2 separate regions of the Homo sapiens genome follow, and region 1 is linked to region 2. A link means that fine-mapping ties the variant in region 2 to the expression of a gene that starts in the linked region. Tissue or cell type: whole blood. Region 2 holds a variant in brackets; the other region holds the start of a gene. All regions are shown on one strand. Distances are between the middles of the regions.

The links. PIP is the estimated chance that this variant, and not a neighbour inherited with it, causes the effect.
Region 1: it holds the start of SLC25A42, and the variant in region 2 is fine-mapped to the expression of SLC25A42 in whole blood (TOPMed, PIP above 0.99).

The regions. Positions count from the first base shown.
Region 1 is chr19:19,058,942-19,067,040 of GRCh38, forward strand. It overlaps SLC25A42 (solute carrier family 25 member 42), which reads left to right and starts at 5,053. Exons shown (of 8, transcript NM_178526.5): 1 at 5,053-5,174. It overlaps LOC124904655 (a long non-coding RNA gene), which reads right to left and starts at 4,584. Exons shown (of 3, transcript XR_007067160.1): 1 at 4,249-4,584; 2 at 3,103-3,210; 3 at 1,885-2,209. RefSeq lists silencers at 4,525-4,694, 4,955-5,224.
Region 2 is chr19:18,983,407-18,991,505 of GRCh38, forward strand. It overlaps SUGP2 (SURP and G-patch domain containing 2), which reads right to left. Exons shown (of 11, transcript NM_001017392.5): 11 at 7,487-8,099. Among named protein-coding and RNA genes, the nearest start is that of SUGP2, 46 kb to the right of the region's middle. RefSeq lists an enhancer at 6,481-6,981. The variant G/A (reference allele first, on the strand shown) is at 4,867.

The DNA.
Region 1 (8,099 bases), 76 kb after region 2:
ATCATTGTTGTTGCCCTCAGTGACCACCCCACCCCAAGCATTCTGGGGGTGCCCAGACAGCTGTGGCCCTGCAGACCCCAGCTCTTCTGCTCTGAAGTCACACTCAGAGGTCACACCGTGGTCACTAGGTGGCTTGTGCATCTCTTGTGGCCTCACGGGGGTCCGGGCAGCCTCATGACCACTGGTGTGTGCCCTAGCCTTCCTGCCCACACCTTGGAGGCCTCTCCCCTCTTGGACCCTCGCCCCTGCTTGTCATGTGCCTCCCCGAGCCCCAGGATGGCCTGGGCTCAGTCCTTGACCTCAGGGACACTCCTTTCCCAGCAGGCCCCCAGCTTCCGTGGAATCCAGCCGATGCAAACAGCTGAGGAGCGTCACCCTGGCTGCACCTCTCCGTGGTGTCCCCGTCTCCCCTGCCCCCAGCAGGAAAGGGTGCTCTCAGCTCAGCAGGGCTGGCCCAAACCTCTGACCCAGTCACCCCGCCCTATCCCTCCTCCCTGGAGACTCCCAGGATGTGGGAGAAAGATCTCGAATCTGCCCCAGACTGCCCTGACTTAACTTCTGGGCCAGTGTGACCTTGGGCAGTTCTCAAGCATTTCTTCATCTGTCATGTGGCGGGGTAGGTGCTCCTGAGCTATTTCGAGGACGGCCTGCAGTGCTGGCCCTGTCATTCCTGCTCCAGCCTTGCTCTCAGTCTGCCCATGGCTCCCCTTTGCCTTCTACATAAAACCAAACCTGTCTGTGGTCCCAGCAACTTGGGCTAAGGCGGGAAGATCACTTGAGCCCAGGAGTCAAGGCTGCAGTGAGTTAGGATGGCACCACTGCACTCCAGCCTGGGTGACGGATCAAGAGCTTGTCTCAAAAACAAACAAACAAACAAAAAAATGCACTTCATGCCCTGCAGACCCAGTATGGCCCAGGCCTTGCCCATTTCCCAGTCTTTCCACTGTACTCACTCCCTATTCCCCCACCCCAGGGCCTTTGCACAAGCCCCCATGTGACAAGCCATGCCCTCTGCCTAGAAGTGCCCTTCCCTTGGCCTTCCCCGTGGCCGGCTCCTCCTAGCACATGAGGTTTCAGCTCACGTTGCCTTCTCCAGGAGAGACCCCCATCTCATCACCTCATGTGCTCTGGCTCTGACACTGGGCCCCATCTGAGGTCACCTCATTTGTGAACTCTCCTGTTTGTCTTGCCCCCACCATCGGCTGGCTCCCTGCAGGGAGGCCCCTGTCCCCACTTGCTGTGCCTTCAGCTTCCCGTCAGTGTTTTTGAGTGTTCACCTGAATAAACTGACAAGCACTCGAGGTCCCTGCCAGGTGGCCCCAGCGTCCTCCCCTGGGCCTGGGCCAAGCTGCAGGCTTCTTCAGGAAGGGGTGGTTCTGCCTTATCTGTCCCTCCCACCTTAGCCCAAGGAAGTGGGTGTCTTCAGTAGATGCAGCTAGCATGTTTGGACAGCCTCAGGTTGGGTGGGGGCCCCTCACCAAAGATCTCACATTTCCCTGGGGTTATGGCCTGGCTTTCCATCCCCCCTCGGCCACTTCAGGCATATCACCTCCCGTCTGTGAGCCTCGGCCTTCTCATCTGAACTCAGGCTAGATCTGGCACACTGGAGGGCCACAGCCCCTAGAAAGGCGCGCTTCAGGGGATGTCCAGAACATAACTCCCCCCAGCCCCCATCCCCGTCGCCTTCCCTTTTCTGTCACCCAGGCTGGAGTGCAGTGGCGCCATCTCGGCTCACTGCAAGCTCTGCCTCCCAGGTTCACACCATTCTCCTGCCTCAGCCTCCTGAGTAGCTGGGATTACAGGCGCCTGCCACCACCCCCGGCTAATTTTTTTGTATTTTTAGTAGAGATGGGGTTTCACCTTGTTAGCCAGGATGGTCTTGATCTCCTGACCTCGTGATCCGCCCGCCTCGGCCTCCCAAAGTGCTAGGATTACAGGCGTGAGCCACCGCACCCGGCCCTGGCCTTCTCTTAAGTAGCTTTTGCTGTCCTCCTTGATGACATCGAGACCTGGGCTGAGGTGGAGCCTGCTGCAAGGATGGTGCGAGTGTGTTCAGGCCACGCCTCTGCTACTGTAGGCTCTTGGTGAAGTGGCCTGACTTATCTGAGCCTTGGGAGGTGAATGAGGCCACTCTGACCCCAGCCAGGCTTGGTTGTTGTCACTGCTGTGTTCAGGATGTCTCCCTCCAGCCAGGGATGGGCTTGGGCTCCTGGGAAAGGAACACAGATTTTTTCTGTTGTGAACATACATCTCCCAGAGGCTGGACTAAACCTCATTTTCCAGATAGGAAATAGACTCATGGGCATTTGAGGGGCTGCGGTGGGATGAGACCACAGCTTGGCCTGCCTCCAGGCCCCTCATCTTTTTCCAAAGCTGTTAACCTGACCTTGGGCAAAAGGCCTTTGGGCCTCAGGTGATTAGGCCTGGACGCTGTGCCAGGGCCTGGCTCACAGATGATTCCTGGGATCCCCAAGAGGTAGAGGAGACTGGAGGGCGAAGAGGCAGTGTCCTGTCCAGGGCTGGCCAGCCAAAGCAGAAGAGCCGAGATCCTGGGCACCCTAGCTGGGCTTACATGAGTGCCCATGGTGGGGGTGTCCATTGCTATTGCCAAGGTGCTTTGCCTGCCATTGCTGGAAGGCGGTAGGGAGGTTGGCTGGCGCCAGCCTGCTAAAGAACGAGCAGAAGCTAGAGAGGCAGCCCCAGGCTGGGCCAGAGCCTGACCTTTGCCTTAGTTGGCTCTGTCCCTGGAGGCACTGTGGGACCTTCCAGGAGCTTTGTTACCTCCCCCTCCCAGGGCCTGGCAGGTGGGCACTGGGAGTGGGCGCTCCTCGGCGTAGATATCTCCCTCTTGGTGTGGCAAGCCACGCCCATAGTTGGTCTGTGTCCATGAAGCGCTATTTACAGAGAGGGAAACAGGCCCAGAGAAGAACAATATATCATCACCAGCCTTCCATGAGTGCTTACTGTGGACGAAGCCATTGTAAGTGTTTTGCTTCCATTTCATCAATGCTCACATCAGCCCTAGGAGACAGCCGGGAAACTGAAGTGGGGAGCTTGTGTTATTTGCTGAAGGTCCTGTGGCTGTTACTGGCCATTACTTACGTTAAAAAGAGCAGGGATTCAAACTCAGCCCTGGGTCCTTCCACCAAGGAATATTCTCCACCATAGGCTCAGTTTTCTTATCTGCTAAGTGGGCACTGTCACGTCCACCTGGAAGTGAGGTGGGGAGATGGTATTGGAGAAAGCCCAGTGGGGACCTGGCACCCAATTGATGTTCAACTGACCTCAGCTTCCCCCTCTTCTCTGGAGGGCAGAATGGAGGCCAGATCCTGGAAGTTGCCAGGAAGCAAACCACAGGTGGGAGGTATGGGAGAGGAGGTCCAGGTAGGCATATCGTGAGAATATCAGGAGTTTGATGATGGCCTTGGGCTAGTGATTTCCCGTCACATCCTCCCCATTTGAAACTTGTGGATCACACACTTAGCAGGGGCTTGTGCAGCCCTGAAATGTGAGCCCTTTCTAAGGTTGGTTTCAGCCTTGCTCCCTCCCAGGATTCCCTGGTTCTGAACTTGATCTCCACCAACCCTGGCCAGCACCTAGAGGAAATAAGAGCTGGTATCTGGAAACATTTGTAGCCCTCTCCATCCTGAAGATGAAGGGTGAGTCATAGAACAGAGTGGCTTCGGGGGAGGTGCCGATGACACAGCCATGCCTGGGATGGCAGGTGTCTCCCTAAACTGCCGGCATTTTTCTGCACTTCACAGAGGAGCTGAGGCTCACAGGCCGCACATGACCTGCTCAGGGTCAAATGCTTTCACCAGATAATTAAAATGAGAGCTGAGTTGTAAATTTTCCCAGGGAAGCAACCCCAGAGAGGAAAGATCAAGGCATAGGAATCATTTTCCCCCCTCTTTTCCAAATGAAACAGCTGAGGCTCACAAGGGCTTTTGCCCAAGGTTGTGTGGTGGGCCAGTGATTGGACAAGGATTCAAACCCAGGTCTCTGAGGCCCCCAGTGGCTCTTCTCTGACACACTCTTTCCAAAAAGCAGGCTGCTCTAGATTCATTCTCTGGTTTAGCAACCAGAGAATGCTGTGTAACCTTGGGCAAGGAGCTTGACCTCTCTGTGCTCTGGTTTCTGTAAAAGGAGCCAGTGGTCTCTCTGACCTCATGGGATTGTGGTTAAGATTCAGTTAATTCAAAAAAAGACTTGGCAGGGAGAAGGCCCAACAGGGATGTCACTGGATACCGTGGCGGGGAAAGCTGGGACGCAGAGAGGTCAGACACTCAGAAAACCACGCAGCGCGTTTCAGTAGGATTCCGCCCCTTATTTCCATGTCTTCACACCACCTCGAGATGGAGAGGGCAGTTCAGAGTGACCTCCAGCGAATCTGCCCTCTCCGTGTCGTCTGCAGGGGATTAGTGGGGAGTAAGGGGATAGAGAATTATCCAGGAGTCCTTCAGCCTTGATGGTCCAAGTTCACATCCGCTTCTGTGCTAGGTGGCCAGAGGGCGGGCTCTACACGAGAGCCTCAGGGGACCCTGCGCCAGGCGTCCGAGGCCACGTCGGGTTGCCGCGCTCCGGGTCGGACTGCACCTTGAACGCTCCAGCCCTCCCCTGGGGGCGTACCGCCCACGGCCGCTGCGACTGGCCGCGGGGCCTGCCAGTCTTCGGCTTTGCGGCCAATCCCGGTCTCCCCCCAAGCTACGCCCTCCGTTCCTCTCGCCTCTGCCCCACCGGTAGCGCCAGTTTCTTCGTAGCCCCGCCCCTGGCCCCCAGCGATTGGCCGACAGTTCTGCCTGTTTTCTGCCAAGATTCCAATCCTCGCCTGCCTCCAGGCCCTCGCCTCCCAGCGCCTAGCACCCTGAGGGACCACTCAGGCACCCCAGGCCTCTCCCAATAGCCCCACCTCTGCCAATCAGCGATTGGCTTTAGGGGCTGCCCATCTGCTTCATACTCGCCAATCACTGTCGCTTCCAGCGCTGACTGGCCAGGGAGCAGCCAATCGGGGCGTGGCGTGGACCCCTCCCGTGGCGCGCTCTGGGGGTGCGCGAGGCGGGGCCGTGGCGGCTGGAGGTAGCGGCGGCGGCGACGCGTCCGGGCCGGTGAGGGGGCGCGGGGGGCGCCGGGGGGGCCCAAGCGTCAGCGGCCCGCGCCTGTCGGGCTGAACTGAGGTGAGGCACGGGTCCTGTCATGGATCCCGGGGCGAGGGGCGGATGAGGCGGGGCATGACAGTAGCGTCGCGAGGGCAGGAAGAGGTTAAAGACCCCCCCCAACCCCACACTCCACGTCTACTGCCCCCTGGGGGCTACTGCATCCAGGTTTGAGCCCGTCACCCGCAGTCCACGCACGCCTGACACCACGTCCCTTTTCGTTGACATCCCCCATACACTTTAGACTGTCCTTGCTGACATCTCCCACACCCCTGGGGCCTTGTCCCCGGCGCCCCGCACAGCTGGGTCTGACATCCCCCTCACACACCTGACACCGCGCCCCCACTCACGAACACCCGCCCCCACTCACGAACACCCCCCACATCACCTGAGTCTGTCCTTGTCGATGACACCCCCACACCCACACCTGAGCCTGTGACTCCTAACTCATGGCCTCGCAACTCACACCTGGACCTAGTCCCGTCCCCCACTGCCTTTCCTCATATCCAGGTATCTGCTCGCTACTCTCGTGCCCACTCCCCCAGCAACCTGTGTCTCTCTTCTCAGGGACCTTCCCCCTGGCACCTGCCCTCTGCCCTGGCAGCCCCACACCTCTGTCTCCCCCTTTTCTCTCTCCCACCTTGGGCTTTCTTCCACGTGCACCTGTGTTCGCACACCCTCTGTAATAATCCCCCCGAATCCCCCAGGTCCTCCAATAGTCCCCCAAGCCTTGGTATCTCAGGATCGCTGCACCCTCCCCTCCCCAAACAAAAGCTTACCCCAGTGTTCATTTCTAACAGTGCTTGACAGTCTATAAAGTGATTTCCGGACCTTAGAATAATCCCATCTGTCAGACCAAACCGGAATCATCTCCATTTTACCAGCCACAGACCTAAACCACTTGAATGCTAGAGGCAGAGCCTATTCTACCCTGGGCATCGCTGACCCTCTGCTGTGGACCCACCGCGTTTGGGCCCATCTGTTATGTTTATCTCAGAGGGATTGGCAGGAGTCGTGACTTTGACTGGGTCCGGAAAGGCTTAGCTGGAAGGGACGGCCCCTCTGCCAAGCGTGTGTCTCGGAGTCCTGGGGCAGGCTGGCGGTGGAGACGCTGCCGGAGGAGGGGGGCTCATCATCTTGGGTGCCTCCTGCAGGATGCCGGAGAGGGGGTTGCCGGGGCCGGGGCTCCCAGCTCTTGCAGACCCGGGACCCCTCTCCGACACTCCCTGGGCCCTTGAAGCCGATAAAGAGTAAGGAAACACTCTTTAGAGTGAGGCAAACTAATGTTTCAGCTGTTTAAAGCTAACCTGCAAAACGAGCCTGGGTGGTGCTAGGAATGATTCTTCTGGAATTTTTTAGTTCCCTTGAGTCTGATTTGCAAGCATGCAGCATAGAAGGAGGACAGTGGCTTTGTTGTTGAAAAGCAATAACGTGCCATTTCCTGTAAGGCTCCTGGAGCGTTTCTTACCCCCTCCCACCGCTCCCTGCAAAGACGGTACCAGAATGTTTCAGAGGGTCATGTCACCTTCAGCTTCTCCTGTGGAAACTGAAGCCATTTGGGTTTTCTGTCCAACTTCAATAGGAGTCATTTAAAACATATATGGGCATGTATGTATATATGTATGTATATGTGTGTGTGTTGTACACATATGTACATGTACCTATAATATTCATATGTTTATATACATATTTTATATATACATATTTCGTGTGTGTTATATATGTACATGTGTATAAACTTTGGCAAGATCATTGAGTATATAGTTTTTGGGTTTTTTTTGAGACGGAGTCTTGCTCTGTTGCCCAGGCTGGAGTGCAGTGGTGTGATCTCGGCTCACGGCAACCTCTGCCTCCTGGGTTCATGCAGTTCTCCTACCTCAGCCTCCTGAGTAGCTGGGATTACAGGCATGTGCCACCACACCCAGCTAATTTTTGTATTTTTAATAGAAACGGGGTTTCACCATGTTGGCTAGGCTGGTCTCGCACTCCTGACCCCAAGTGATCTGCTCGCCTCAGCCTCCCAAGATGCTGGGATTACAGGCGTGAGCCACCACACCCGGCCTATTATATAGTTAAAAAGAAAAAATCAAACAGTACAAAAGGTCACATAGTAGAAATCAGTCAGGTCTTCCCCAGCCTGTACCCCGTTCCTCCTCAGATGCACCTGCTGTTGATAATTTCTTATGTTTTCTTCCAGAGGTAGTCTATGACTGGGGTGGCAGAAAGGGGTCGGGGGAGGTATATATCCCCCACCCCTTTTAAACCACTGGTAAATTTGCATTGAGCAGACATATGCATTCTAAGGCCAGTCCCTTACTGATGGCTGTTTAAGCTGCAGCCCATATTTTTTTTTTCTTTCTTTTTTTTTTTTTGAGTTGGATTCTTGCTCTGTCGCCCAGGCTGGAGTGCAGTGGCGCGATCTCGGCTCACTGCAAGCTCCGCCTCCCAAGTTCAAGCCATTCTCCTGCCTCAGCCTCCTGAGTAGCTGGGACTACAGGCACCCACCACTACACCCGGCTAATTTTTTCATATTTTTTTAGTAGAGACGGGGTTTCACTGTGTTAGCCAGGATGGTCTCGATCTCCTGACCTTGTGATCAGCCTGCCTCGGTCTCCCAAAGTGCTGGGATTACAGGCGTGAGCCACTGCGCCCAGCCACTGCAGCCCATATTTAGCTTTTACAAACAGAGCTGCAATGGATAGATGCATGCATCAGCATGTACTAAATACACATTGAACGTATTTGGGCTCCAGCCGTGCTCAGACACTTCAGACCCCCCTGTCTTGCTGGCCATGCCTGTAGTCCACAGTTACTCAGGAGGCTGAGGTGGGAGGATTGCTTGAACCAAGGAGTTCAAGGCTGCAGTGAGCTATAATCATGCCACTGCACTCCTCTCCAGCCTGGACGACAGAGCTAGACCCTGTCTCAAAAAAAAAAAAAAAAAAG
Region 2 (8,099 bases):
TAAGAACTGAACTTTCTGGAAATGGCTTGGACGTCCCACCTGCCTGCCCCAGAGAGTTGTTAACCAACGTCTCTGGGCCTCAGTTTCCTCGTCTGTAAAGGGAGCTGTGGTTGCCTAAGGTGAAAGGAGCACAGGTGCCAAGCGTTCTTTGCCATGCCTGGCGCTATAAGATATCCAGTGCTATCTAGGGATGCCCCCCGGGTGCCCACCCTGGACTCCTGCTTACTTGGACTTGGATAAAAGAAGGTTTTCTGGCCAGGTGCAGTGGTTCATGCCTGTAATCCCAACACTTTGGGAGGCAGAGGCGGATGGATCATCTGAGGTCAGGAGTTCAAGACCAGCCTGAGCAACATGGTGAAACCCCATCTCTACTAAAAATACAAAAATTAGCCAGGTATGGTGGTGCCTGCCTGTAGTCCTAGCTACTTGGGAGGCTGAGGCAAAATAATTGCTTGAAACTGGGAGGTGGGGGTTACAGGGGGTTGCAGTGAGCCCAGATTGAGCTGCTGTACTCCACCAGCCTGGGCAACAGAGTGAGACTCTGTCTCAAAAAAAAAAAAAAAAAAAAAAAAAAAAAAAAAAGAAGAAGAAGAAGAAGAAGGTTTTCTGCGTTCTGAGGGACTTAGTTGCTCCCAGACATCTCTGCCTCTTGCAACAACCTGCCAAGAACGTGGAGAGCCAGAAAGGAGAGGGTGAACATCTCTGGACTGAAACAGGGAAACTGTCAAAGGCTCTAGAGTAGGCAGGTGGGACGTCCAAGCCAGAAAGGACAGGTTTGCTCTGGGTTCCTTGCAAGTGACCTCCATGGGGTTCGGGGCTGAGACGGAGCCTACAACGTTGTCTAAGGCCACATTTCAGACAACTGCCAGAGAATGGTTGTTTTACCAAATAGCTGGCCAGCACACGGGGTCTATGTCTCTGTGTCTTTTGGCTAGGTTATTCACACCCCACCCTCGTCAGCTGTCAGGGTTACCCTGGGGAATGTCAATTCCAGGCACTTCTGGTTCCAGTGGGCATTCAGGCAAAGGGTGCTCCAGCAGCCCAGGGTAGCCCTGATACCCTGCACAGGTGCCTGCCATTAAATGGGGCTGGAACCGAGGGGTATAGATGGAACAGTTCAGAATTGCTTTCATTCCTGCCCTGCCCTTCCAGACTGCTCTTTTAAAAGGTGTAAATCAGGCCAGGCATGGTGATACATGCCTGTAGTCCCAGCTACTCAGGAGGCTAAGGCTGGAGGATCATTTCAGCCCAGGAGGTCAAGGCTGCAGAGAGCTATGATCATGCCACTGTACTCCAGCCTGGGCTACAGAGTGAGATGCCGTCTTAAAAATAATAATGATAATGATGATAAATTTTTTGTTTGTTTTTGAGACAGAGTCTTACTCTGTCACTCAGGCTGGAGTGCAGTGACGCCATCCCGGCTCGCTGCAACCTCCACTTTCCGGGTTCAAGTGATCTTCTCGCCTCAGCCTCCCGAGTAGCTGGAACTATGTGTGTGTACCACCATGCCTGGCTAATTTTTGTATTTTTAGTACAAACGGAATTTTGCCGTCTTGCCCAGGCTGGTCTCAAACTCCTGACCTCAAGCGATCCGTCTGCCTTGGCCTCCCAAAGTGCTGGGATTACAAGCATGAGCCACCGCACCATGACAAAAGCCCCTCTCTACTAAAAAATACAAAAATTAGCTGGGCATGGTGGCGCGTGCCCATAGTCCCGGCTACTCAGGAGGCTGAGGTGGGAGGATTGCGTGAATCTTGGAGGTGGAGGTTGCAGTAAGCCGAGATGGCACCACTACACTCCAGCCTGGGCGACAGAGTAAGACCCTGTCTCAAAACGAAAACCAACAAATAAAAATGTGTGGTGAATGAATGAATGAATGAATGAGTGAACAGACAAGATGTAAAAAGCCGATCAGAGCCTCTGCCAAGGAGATGTCAGAGGGTTTTTCACAGCAGCCTTTGAACAATGGCCCTGGGAGGAAGCCAGGCTTATTTCCCCATTTGACACAGGAAGAAACTGTCTTGGTTCAAATCTGATCCTTTTTTCTCCTAAGACCACAGCTGCCTCCGAAACAAAGGCCGACAATTGCTGCCAGCAAGTGCTTTGCTGTTTTTACTTCCTCTAAACATTCTTCAGTGGATTTTCCTTTCAAACTGGTTGTAAGGAGGCACATGGCTGGGTGTTGGTGGGGGGTGGCACCCCTGCCCGGACCCCACACGCTTCCCTACCACGTGGCCGGTTTGGAGTAGACCCATCTTTGTGCTGAAACACAGCCCAACATTGCCATATACGGGGGGCTTGTCTACATTTTACAAGATTTTTACAAAAATGATGCTACACTTTGCAAATGGATTTATTTTTTTTGAGACAAGGTCATACTCTGTCACCCAGGCTGGAGTGCAGTGGTACAATCACAGCTCACTGCAGCCTTGACCTCCCGGGCTCAAGTGATCCTTCCTCCTCAGCCTCCCAAGTAGGTGGGACTACAGGCATGTGCCACCATGCCCGGCTAGGGTTTCTTTTTTTTTTAATAGAGATGGGGTCTTGTTACGTTGCCCAGGCTGGCCTTGAATTCCTGGCCTCAAGCAGTGCTCTTTCCTCTCCCTCCTAAAGTGCTGGGATTGCAGGTGTGAGCCACCACGCCCAGCTTGGAACATCTTTATTTTAAGATGAGCATGCTGGGGCCTCAGGGAGTGAAGTGAATTTTCCAAAGTCACTCGTTGTGACCAGGACACTGGAGTCAAGGCCCTTTCATCATGTCATGGGGTCTAGGTAAGGACTCAGGAAACTTCATTTATTTATTTATAGATAGAGTTTTGCTTTTGTAGCCCAGGCTGGAGTACAGTGGTGCGATCTCGGCTCACTGCAACCCCCGCCTCCTGGATTCACGCGATTCTCCTGCTTCGGCCTCCGGAATAGCTGGGATTACAGGCATGCACCACCACACCCAGCTAATTTTTGCATTTTTAGTAGAGACGAGGTTTCACCATGTTGGCCAGGCTGGTCTCGAACTCCTGACCTCAGGTGATCTGCCTGCCTCGGCCTCCCAAAGTGCTGGGATTACAGGCGTGAGCCACCACGCCTGGCCTTTGTTTTAAGGAGGAGGAGTCAGCCAATGGGATGCCTCAAGGACTGGGTCCACTGACACAGAACAATGGAAACAGATCAGCGATGTCTGAGTTCACAGCATGCGGGTGCTGCTCCTAAGAACCCTTCTGTAGATGCTACTGTTCTCCCCATTTGCAAATGAGGAAGCTGACACTCAGAGATGTGGATCACCCGCCCCAGGTTACACAGCACAGAGAGGACATGTTAGGACTGAGGATTCAAATTCTTAAGGTTTGCTTTCCTCCTGGCAAAAGCAAGTCATGAAGGCGTGGAAGCTGAAATCTCGAGGCTAACGCTCCCCTTTTCACACCTGGCCACAAGCTGCAAGAACTGGGAGTTGGTGCTCCCATGAGTCCAACCTGAGGATTCGCTGGAGAAAAATTCAGCCAAGAAAAGCTCAGCTCGTGAGGTCCCCCTCCTGGGCTGTGAAGGAAGCGGATAGTGCCAGTCATTACAGAGCCGCAATTCCTGAGTGTTAAAGTTCTCAGGGCCATGAGTATGGACTTCGTGGGAAATAGAAGCACCGTGTAGACCTATGCATGTGTGTATGTCTGTGTGCATACGTGTGCATGTCTCTGTGTATGTATGTGCATGTGTGCACGCATTCGCACATGGCGTTGCACAGGGTGTGTCCATGTGTACGCAAGTGTGTGTATATAGGGAGCTTCTAAATCAGATGAAACCAACTGGAAATCCGGATACTGATGTTTAGAATTCAAGCTCTGGAGTCAGACTGCCCCAGGCCTCAGTTTTTCCATTGGGAAATGGGCTGATCCTCCCCGGATGAGAGCACTGGAGTCCAGAGAGGCCAATGACGATCAGATTTATCTCAGTATATGGTCTGTGCTGTGGGCCTTGAGGCTGAAATTTTGTGAGCTCCTTTAATTCTCTTTTTTGTGTGTGTTGGGGGTTGGCGGCAGGGTCTTGCTCTGTCGTCCAGGCTGGGCTGCAGTGGTGCATTCATAGCTCACTGCAGCCTCCAGCTCCCTGGCTCAAGCAATCCTTCAACCTCAGCCTCCCGAGGAGCTGGGACTACAGGTGGGACTATCATGCCCTGCTAACAAAAACGTTTCTTTTTGTAGAGGTGGAGCCTCCCTATGTTGCCTAGGCTGCAGCCCCAGCATTCATTAATCATCCCCGGCTCCTACCTCTGCCCAGCCCTTAATCCCCCGAACATATGATGGGGATTAATCCCCCAAACCCTTGGGGGGGATTAATCCCCCAAACATATGGGGATGGGGGGACTTGTGACAACTTACCACTCTTTCCCTGGATAGCTCCTCTATGGAATGTGGTAGAGTTTGGGGGCCACCCAACCCTCAGGCTGGCCAGGGAGGGGTGGGCAAGGGGAGCTGAGAAGGGCTTGGGGATCCTCACGAGGGAAAACTGAGGCCCAAGCGGGTGGGATGTGAAAGGATCAGTCGGTAACAAGACCAGTCCCTCTGAACCCTCTAAGAGAGGTCCTGGGTAACCGTATGTATTTAACCCTGCAAGCTGTTGGCTACATTTCACTGGAGAAAATGCAGGCGTGGAGGGTCCCACCGCTTGACCACCTCGGGGAGGACTGACTGTGAGCAGAGGGTCAGTAATAGCGTCCCTGTTGCTGGCACATCTCTGGCCCTCAAAACACCACCCTCCACCATGGGTGGGCATTGGGGTAGTATGTGGACACAGGGGAGATAGAGGCCTGGCTGGGCCCCTCAGGGAACACGGTGACCCCAAACCACCACAGGCTCCTGCACTGTTGAGGTGGGGCTG[G/A]TGACAGGGTGGGGGTGACAGGGACAGAGTTGAGGGACCTGGAGGAGGTAGAGAGAGTCAGCAGTCAGGTCCATATCCCAAGAGGTCAGGGTTTGGGGGGTGAAGCTGGCATTGGAGCCCAGCCTAAGGGCCAGTGCCTGCCAGAGACACCTGCAGGAACCACAGCCCCCACTGTCCCGGAGAGGCAGGGAAACTAGGGAATTGGGACATCAGCAGGGTCACCCCAAAGTTAGATGGCACATGAACTGTGTGGAGGGAGGCAGCAAGGTGAGGAGACCCTCAGGAGGACCCTTTGTTCTCATATGCTATTTCCTGGACTTTGTCCACAAAGAAGCCCATTCTAGGATGTAGGGCCCAAACCCAAATGGCTAGGCGTGGAGAACCTGTTAGCTAAATGACAAGCCATCATACATACATGTGTATATGTAAGTTTATTTCAGGTTTGTATTTTTAGATATAGGGTTGCCCAGGCTGGAGTACTGTGATGCAATCTCAATTCACCACAGCCTCCAATCCTGGGCTCAAGTGATCCTCCCACCTCAGCCTCTCCAGTAGCTGGGATTACAAGCACAGGCTGCCACACATGGCTTCAGAATTTTTTTTTTTTTTTTTTGAGACCAAGGGTCGCTCTTGTTGCCCAGGCTGGAGTGCAGTGGCGCGATCTCGGCTAAACGCAACCTCTGCCTCCAGGGTTCAAGCGATTCTCCTGCCTCAGCCTCCCGAGTAGCTGGGATGACAGGCATGCGCCACCATGCCTGGCTAACTTTTGTATTTTTAGTATAGATGAGGTTTCTCCATGTTGGTCAGGCTGGTCTTGAACTCCCAACCTCAGGTGATCTGCCCACCTCCACCTCCCAAAGTGCTGGGATTACAGGCGTGAGCCACCGCGCCCAGCCTCAGAAATTTTTTAAGTGAAAAAAAGCAGGGAGCAGAATAGAACTTGAAGTATAATTTGCATTTTAAAGGTTCCATCTAAAACACGATTGTGCCTACGATTGTTTACATGTGGAATATCCTCTGAAGCCAACCCAATACCTGCTCTTTTCCCACGGGCCATGGAGACTGCTGAGACAGCCTGTGGGGAGAGGAAGGCAGTCTCCGAGTGGCACCCTTGGAGTGTCCTGTCATTTGTTTTGACTTATGGGAGGAGAAAGCCTCTGTGCTCCATTCCGCATACATCTGGGTTTGGTTTTTCATCTTTTACAAGGAAAACGTCCTCGCGTGCTGCTTGAACATGCATGCGCGCACATCTGTACGTGGGCATGCATGCACAGCAAAGGCCTGGACTGAAGCCACACCTTGCTTTTGCTACTGGGGCTTCTTGGCAGCGCCTTCTGCCTGTCTTGCCCCAAGGAAGCTCCAGGGAGGAGAAAGGCCATGACAGGGATCTTGTGGTTCCACTTAGTCCTAAATTATTAGGTTGGTGGAAAAGTAATTGAAGGTTTTGCCATTACTTTTGCACCAACCTAGTACAAGGCAGCAGGGGAGATTTTACCTTCCAAATGAGATCCTTCCCAGTCTGTAGAGGGGAAACTGAGGCCTGAGATCAAGTGACCTGCCTGGGTCAACGCCAGGACAGGCATCCTGGGCTGGACACCACTCCTCCTGTCCTCCTAAGACACCCTGACCGGCCTTAGGGTGATATTAAGAGGAACTAGGGGAAGAAGGGTTCCACTACTGAAGAGAAATTCCTGGTGGTTCCTCACCCCCTGCAGGTGAGCCCCACATTTTCCCTGCAGGCTCCGGCCTTTCTCAGGGAGTGCCACTGAAGCTAGCGGTTAGACATCGCTAAGATGAAGGCAGGGTGAGGGTCTTGGCTGGCAATAGCTTCCCCCGGGACACGGTAGAAGTGAGGCTGGGGGTCCTGCCTCAGCTTCCTAAGGGCTCTGTCTCAAGGCTCCCGCTAAGCTGCCCACAGGGACCTTTCTACATGAGCATCACCTGCCCTGGGCACAGTGCCTTCCCCCTCCCTGCAGTCTGGCTCCTCCCCTCCTCACCCTGGTCAGGCAGAGGCCCCTGCAGGCCCCCTGGGTGCTGCCTTGGTCTCTGCTGTGCCCTCTGCACGCCCCTCCTCACCTGGAGGGCCAAGGGGCTGTTGACAGAGGAACCATGGGCAGGCTGGCAGCACCCAGGGACAGCAGGGAGTGTGAAGATGACAGAGAGGCAGCTCTGCAGTCAGAGGGTGGCCCAGGCAGGCTCTGGTTTTACTCTGGCAGCTGGAACCCCAGCCCTGGGATGATGGGGCAAAGCCCTGTGGGGACAGGTGAGTCGTAGGCAGCAGGGGCACAGCTCCCACTGCCCTGACACCCCTCAAAGGCAGCTTCTGTACTTGGCGGTACCGATTACCCTCCCCAGCCTCCCCAGAAGGGAATTGCCCTCCCTCTGGTGGGTGCTTGGTCCCTTCCTGCTCTCTGGCATCTTCCAAGCTTTCCTGGTGACAGTGACACAAGGTCCCTCAGGTGGGGCAAGCCAGTGAGGAGGGGCCCGAGGGAGGAGCACCACGCCGGCGGAGGGCACGTCCTGGGAGGCAGCCATCATCTGGTTCTACACTGCACTCCCATCTGCGTGCGCTGGTGTCTGATCTGATTTTAAAAACACAGCCATGGAGACCCCAGCACACTGCATTTCCTCTACATTTATTGCAACGGCTAAATGATTAACAACATTCACAACTTCTTAGATCTTAAAAAACAGAAACAAAAGAAAACTTCCATTTTGTAACATCACAAATGTCTTCTAGGCTTTATCAAGGACCAAAAACACTACAATTCTCTAAGTGATTTCCAGTGATGGAAACAAGCCAGAGACAGTAAAGCACCCAGAGTGGCGAGAGAGCACTTCCAGATGCCTGTTGTCCTCTCGGGGGTGACCCTGGAACTAGAACGACAGAAAAGACACTGTGACTTTGACACGGCTGTGCCACCACACATCACGCGCGACACGAGGATCCTGCAGAGCGGCCTCTGCAGAGAGCAAGGACAGCCTCGGTTAAGAGGGAGGGGCTGGGGGCACGGAGGGCCAGTGGCATCTCCTCTATCCCGGCTGGCCGGCAGCTGGCAGCACGCACCATGCTCTGCTGGCTCCCGACACCTTCACTGCCCCAGCGCTGAATCCACAGGAGAGGTGTCCTCTGAGAGTGTAGGGGGCTTTCTAGGTTCAAGGAGATGTGCCCTTTGACCCCTGCCAAGGACTCACAGAACCATCTCAGCTCAAACTTGGAGGAGCGGCAGGAG